Linked DNA regions of Homo sapiens. The protein of the gene in region 2 purifies or fractionates together with the protein of the main gene of each other region. This does not show direct contact. Each region holds a gene or a part of one and is shown on either strand. Other genes may lie near its edges.

Evidence for each region. Proteins that work in one complex are often made in the same cells at the same time.
Region 1: the proteins of LIPF (region 2) and NGLY1 purify together in Homo sapiens (affinity purification with mass spectrometry; one large-scale study listed by BioGRID and IntAct). This does not show direct contact.

The regions. Positions count from the first base shown.
Region 1 is NC_000003.12:25,734,944-25,738,443, forward strand, and holds part of NGLY1 (peptide-N(4)-(N-acetyl-beta-glucosaminyl)asparagine amidase), read right to left. Parts: intron 2,513-3,500; coding exon 2,391-2,512; intron 1,458-2,390; coding exon of another isoform or gene 1,366-1,457; intron 1,207-1,365; coding exon 1,061-1,206; intron 1-1,060. UniProt on the Homo sapiens protein: Specifically deglycosylates the denatured form of N-linked glycoproteins in the cytoplasm and assists their proteasome-mediated degradation. Cleaves the beta-aspartyl-glucosamine (GlcNAc) of the glycan and the amide side chain of Asn, converting Asn to Asp.
Region 2 is NC_000010.11:88,670,942-88,674,441, reverse strand, and holds part of LIPF (gastric triacylglycerol lipase isoform 2 precursor), read right to left. Parts: intron 2,614-3,500; coding exon 2,477-2,613; intron 855-2,476; coding exon 708-854; intron 1-707. UniProt on the Homo sapiens protein: Catalyzes the hydrolysis of triacylglycerols to yield free fatty acids, diacylglycerol, monoacylglycerol, and glycerol. Shows a preferential hydrolysis at the sn-3 position of triacylglycerol.

The DNA.
Region 1 (3,500 bases), on a different chromosome or scaffold from region 2:
TTTTTGATACAAGTGGAAAGACAATTCAATGGAGAAAAAATAATCTTTTCAATAAATGGTGCTAGAACAATTCATTATCCATATGTAAAAAAAAACTTCATACACCTTGGATCATATAAAAAAATTAACTCAAAATGGATTGCAGACATAAGCATAAAACCAAAAAAAACTTCTAAAACAAAACATAGGAGAAAATCATTGTGACCAAGGGCTAGGCAAAATTTCTTAAATATAACATCAAAAAGCACAATCCATAAAACAACCAATTGGTAAACTGAACGCCAGTTTCTTCTCTTCAAAAATCATTAAGAGCATAAAAAGACAAACTACAGATAGGGAGAAAAATCTTTGCAAAGCACATATCTGATAATGGACTTATATAAGAATATATAAAGAACTCTCAAAACCAAACAGTAAGAAAACACAATACCCAATTAAAAAAAATAAGCAAAGGGGACATATGGATGGTAAGCAAACACATAAAAAGATGCTCAGTATTATTTGTCATTAGGGAAGTACAAATAAAAACCATAATGAAATGCCACTACACACCTATTAAAGGGGATAAAATTAAAAAGTCAGATCATACTAAATGTTAGCAAGGACATGGAGAAACTGGAAACTTACATACTGCTTGCGAAAATGTAAAATGGCACAACCACGTTGGAAAATAGTTTAGTGGTTTCTTAAAAAGTTGTATGTATATCTACCATATAATGCAGCCATTCTACTCCTAGGCATTAAGCAAAGAGAAAAGGCAGCATATGCCCATATAAAGACTTGTGTGCCTGAGTGTTCATGGCAGCTTAATTTGAAATTGTGAAAAAAACTGGGAACTACCCAAATAGCCATCAACAGGTGAAATGGTAAACTATGGCACATCCATACAATGAATACTGATTTGCAGTGATGATTTCAGTGTATACAAATAAAACTTATCAAACTGTACAATTTAAATATATGCAGGTTATTGTATGTTAATTATACATTCATGAAGCTGTCATAAAAGAAAAAAATATATTTTACTTTTGGAAAAAAGTTTTTTTCTTTTATGCTCTACCTCATCTTTTGAAAATGCTATGACATAGGAAAGCTTCTTGCCCCATCCTATTTCATAAAGGAGTGGCTTGTCACAGACATCTTCACATGCATCACAGTGCAGCCACCGCTGCTGAGAAGGAGAATAGACTTCTGTCCAGACATGGTCTACTCAAGTAAGAGAAAAGAGAGCAATGGAAAAAAGACAATGAAATCAGAATGACTTTCAATAACTATACACAAACTCCTAAGAATCATAAAGTAATGCATAATATTCTGAATTTCAGTTAATAAGTGCATTTTGTGGCACACAGGATTTTAGAATACCTGTATTAATTTCTGTCTCTTTGAAATCCTTAAAAATGTTTTTCCAATCTCCTTTAACGTGGTCAGTTTTAGGCTTAATGTGCGCTGTAACTCTTAAGAAGGTAGACATATTAAAGAGCAGCATAAAAAATATCATCCTGAGTTTACTATCATGAAGGAGTTAATGCCACTTTTGAAACTACAGTCTCTCTCTCTGGACTTTAAGGCCCAGAACCAGCAGGAAGTCTAATAGAATCTCTGGTCAATACATGCTTTATATTTGATTTTAAGAGAACACTAACTATTAATGGAAGGTTTCATTTAATTCTTTAGAAAATGGAAACACAAGGAAAACAACTTTTTAACATGTAGACCACACAAGTTATTTCTAAATAGGGACAACACAAATATCACATGACTTTTATTATTTCTGTATACTGTGCTTTAAGTTTATAGTTTACTAAATTTTTTACAGTAATCCCTATAGCAATGAAGATTTCTATGGTACATTATTACATGTTTTTATCCATATATAAACAGCATCACTATAAATGCCACGGTAAATTGCTAATAAAAGAAACAAGACCTAGTGTTTGATAGATCAATAGGGTGTTTACAGTTTACAATAATCCACTGCATATTTCATAATAGCTAGAAGAGAGTAATTCAAATGTTTCCAGCATAAAGACAAATATTTAAGATCTCAGACATCCCAATAATACTGATTTGCTCTGTAGAATTTATATAAATGCATTACAAGTATCCCCCAAATATGTACATCTATTATGCATCAATAAAAAAATAAAGGGGAAAAAAAGGAATATTTATAGTGCAAAGCACCAGGCACAGTGCTAGGTGTTTTACAAAACTCTTGTGATCCCTTCAAAAAACCTGGAAGGTTGGTATTATTACTGTTTTACACAAGGCAAATGGAAGGTCAGACTGACAAGGCCAAAAAGTAACAGAGAATCATGGGCTCAGAATGTAAACCCAAACCTGCAAGCCTGCAAAGCCCTACTACCCTCTGCTCATTCCACATTCTGTACCTGTGTAATCCCAAACATAGCGAGCTTCAAACCCTACAGCTCGGCAGCACAGTGTAAAACAATTGGCCCACTCGCCACACCGTCCACATCTTGTTTCCAAAAGTTTCTCAGGGTTATTATATCTGGTTTAAAAAGAAAAAAAACCTTAATTATCAAAATCAAGATTTTTAAGAGAATTTACATTACCTCTATGCTAAACAGAAATGTTTAATTTTTTTTTTTTTTTTGAGACGGAGTCTTGCTCTGTCACCCAGGCTGGAGTGCAGTGGCGCAATCTCGGCTCACTGCAACCTCCGCCTCCCAGGTTCAAGTGATTCTCCTGCCTCAGCCTCCAGAGTATCTGTGACTACAGGTGCATGCCACCAGGTCTGGCTAATTTTGTTTGTATTTTCAGTAGAGACGGGGTTTCACCATGTTAGCCAGGATGGTCTCGATCTCCTGACCTCGTGATTCGCCCGCCTCAGCCTCCCAAAGTGCTGAGATTACAGGTGTGAGCCACTGCGCCCGGCCTTTAATTTGTTTTTAAATATTTATTTAGAAATCTAGAATATATGAGGCACAATGTTAGAACATTTGGTGAAAAATAATTAAACGGTAGTACTGCTTTCAAGGTGTTCACAATCCTGAGGAAAGGGATGAACACAAATAATTTAAATATATGGCAGAATGTGATCAAACAATACAACAGGTCAGATTAGTGATCAAACAATACAACAGGTCAGAAAGTGGCTGGTGAGGAGAGCTTTTATTTGATCTGTGTTTTGAATAATGTAAGATTTGGAGAAGCAAATTCTCTAGGCAATTTGCCTAAAGCATTAGCACTAAAGTGGTATAGCTAGCTCACTGTATTTAAAAGGTAAACAACTTTAACAAATTACTCAACAAAAATTTTAGCTTAGTTTAATTCAATTTTATCTAAAATATTATCTTTCTTTCTAATAATCATTTTGATTAAAATTTTACTCTTTTGAAGTATTTAAAGGTGCCTGCTAATTTGGAAGTTGTTTTTTGGGATCTATTTGTAACATTCTTTTCAGAAGTTACTCCAATTATAAAATTACCAGACAATTCAAGAACACTAAATTTTGCATTTTGTGTTGAGATGGGTTT
Region 2 (3,500 bases):
AATCCCAGCACTTTGGGAAGCTGAGGCGTGTGGATCATGAGGTCAGGAAATTGAGACCATCCTGGCTAACGCGATGAAACCCCGACTGTACTAAAAATACAAAAAATTAGCCGGGCGTGGTGGCGGGCGCCTGTAGTTCCAGCTACTCGGGAGGCTGAGGCAGGAGAATGGCGTGAACCCAAGAGGCGGAGCTTGCTATGAGCCGAGATTGCGCCACTGCACTCCAGCCTGGGTGACAGCGAGACTCTATCTCAAAAAAAGAATATGGGCAAAGTCTTACATAAATAGTTGCTCAGAAATATAGTCTGTAAGATTTATCAAAATGACTGTCAGCATTAGAAATATTTATTGAAAACATTTATTCAATATCTAGACATTTTTCTCACAAAGGAGCCTGCTAAAATATATGGTTCAGTCCTTTCTCTTACAGAATTTAAATGTAACACCTAGTATTTAGGTGGTCATAAGTGAGTAGTGAATTGTGTTTTTTCTTCATGTTGTTTATTTGGTTTAGGGGCAACTGGGGTGATGGAAGGATGCTGGAAGTGATTAAATTGGGAGCAATGATTTGTGATTTCTCTCATGTTTATCAGGATATCGCAGTTCTGAACCTACTCCTAGTTCTCATAAAGTACCACTTCTAAGTGGCAATGAAACAAGTAATCAAAGATGTTGCTCAAAATATAGAAATTGAAATGCATACTAACCGTGTTAAAGTTCTTACTGTCAAATCCACAAATTATAAATAAGGCATTGCTGCAAAGGAGATTCAGCATCTCACGGGAGCACACTTCAGTAGCAAGAAATTGATCAAAGAAGTTGTGTGGGTAGAATATTTTGTCACCAAATATAAACTGAAAAATAAAGGCACTATTAGAGGGTTGTAGCAATCAAGCTGCAGAAAAGACTCACTAGTTTATCTAATCTACTTATACATGTGTGATGAGGATGATGATATATTCTTATTCTTACATGTTGTTTTAGGAATTTCCAATACTTTCATTTAGTTAATTCCCTAATAAAGTTGTGAAATGGGCAGCACAGATATCAATACTAGGTATCTATTGTGGCACTGAGAACTGTACTGGCTGCTGAGAGGAAGTATAAGACACAAAGAGTTACAATCTAGTTGGGGTGATAGGAGTTGTGGGATAAAATCTTAAAAACACATGACAGACTGTCATAATGAAGTGCCAAGATGTGAGATTTCAGCAATAAATTGTGAAAAGTTTGGGAGGAGAAATGGTGACTTGGCCATATTTTCAGCAAAGCCTTTACAGAGGCAATGAGGCTCAGTATAAGAATTGAAAGAGTTTGCCCCAACTCTCTTTGAGGAAGGCAGATATTTTGTCATCTCTATTTTATACACGAGGAAACATGAGGTTAACATGAGTTAGGGTCTTGGGCTAATTAGAGCTCGATTATACCTAGAATCCTTACCCAAGCCTCTAACTTGAGGTCTATTGCTTTTCTAAATTTTAATCTACGTCTGCATTGCCTATCAGAAAATCTGAGTATGAGTAGGAAATAAGTTCTCAATCAATGTAGCCAATAAATATTTCTGGGCCATCAAAAAATTTTAGATTTTAATAAAAGTTTTCCAAATGTAGTTTGCCTATAGGTAAGTTCTCTTAGGCTTTAGACATACATATTAATACAGAATGAAAAGAGATGAATAGTACAAAACCATAGAAGGAAATGGAATCCTTATATTTTATAACCTGAGGCTAAACCGTTCCCCTAAAGGAAAGAGAGAGAGAGAGAGAGAGAGTGTGTGTGTGTGTGTGTGTGTGTGTGTGTGTGTGTGTGTGTGTGTTGGTTTTACTGGGTGAGAGAATTAGGGTATTAAGCATTGTCAAACAAAACGATTAATTCCATAACATGTGTGCCTACTGCATAAGGCACTTAATATTTATAATTTATTGAAATCCACACCACTGACTTATGAGATCGCCCATTTAAAGATGAAGGAGCTCTTAGGAAAGCCAAAAGGGAAAGCCATGAGAGATCTCAAGGTGTTTGCCTCACTCAATCACTGATTTATTTCCTCCTTTTCTCCCTTTCCCTCCCCTTCCTTTCCCTCCTCTTTCCAGTCTCTCTGGCCCAAGTGGGTTAGTCTTCTCATTTGACTATTTTGTTTTGTTTTTATTTCATCTTCCCTCCTCCTGGAGTGGAATCACAGCCTTGACACAACTGTGTAGAGTGCTTAATAAACAAACCATCTGTGAAAAAGCAAAACTACTCCCAGGCATTGCTGACTCACATGAAGAACAAAGAAAGAAAGGGGGATCTCGCAGGCTGTAAGGAGATTCAAACATGGTCAGTGCTATGGAAGAAATAATACAGATGCGAACAGTTCCATTTTTGGATATAAAAATGATTGTTCTCTTTTTATAACTCTGTTCTCTTTCTATAACTTTAAAATCCATGGGCAATCAAGGGTCTTAGATTCACTTAATTAAAGAGAATTGCATACCTTGAAGAGGGATTGAGGAACAAATCTAAGTTTGTTTATAAGGCTTTTTGTATACTTCACAGTGGCAACAGGAGCTAGAGCATAGAAGGTTTTGATTCTTTTAGCCAGGCTGGGATTGGTGGAAAAGGCAATAAAACCTGAAAAAGAACAAGGAACTGGTGAAAAAGGTGTGTGTGTGTGTTGTTGTTGTTGTTTTGTTTGTTTTTATAAGTGTGACATTATTTTGGACTTACTAAGGATGGTGTTTGAGACAGCCTGAGAAATTGGCATCTCTGCTGGCTCAGTGATTAGATTTTGGTATATTTGTTTTATTTTCATAGATTTTTCTATGGGGACATGAGGCTGGAACGTTTTAAAAGTTATCATAAACCTTTATCTGACCTTAGAAAATAGACCAAATTTAGGATACTCATATGGTTACAAAAAATTTTTTTATGAATTTCTTTATGAATTTATATTTTTTATGAATTTAAATGTATCTCATTACAATGAGATAATTAATTAACACTTAATATGAGTAGAGTATATAAGTGGAAAGGTTAAGAGTAGAAATTTAAATATGACCAAACTCAATTTGAATCCTGGCTCTGTGGTTTATTAGCTTTGTGACCTTGGACAAGCCACCTAATCTCTAAGAACCACTGTTTCCCTCTCTGAAATACAAGGATAGTGGTGAGTGCTTCATTAGATTGTTAGGAACTAAAGGAAGTAAATCATGTAAAGAAAGAATTTATCATGATTCTTGGCACATAGTAAATGCTTGATAAATAAGGACCCAAGAGAATTCAAATATCTATACATAGTAAATACATTCAGTAATGAATTAATTTTGTAAGCAGTAGTATACTGGCAGATGAGGATGTGATCAAGTAGTTATCAAGTTTAACGCTGCAGTATAGCTACATAGGCAAGGCCCTCCCACTGTCAATAATGACATATCGATGATACTCAAGAATGGCCTAAAAAAAACCCTTTCAGATATAGACAACTATATAATATGTAGTCTGGTTCTATTTGTGGAAGA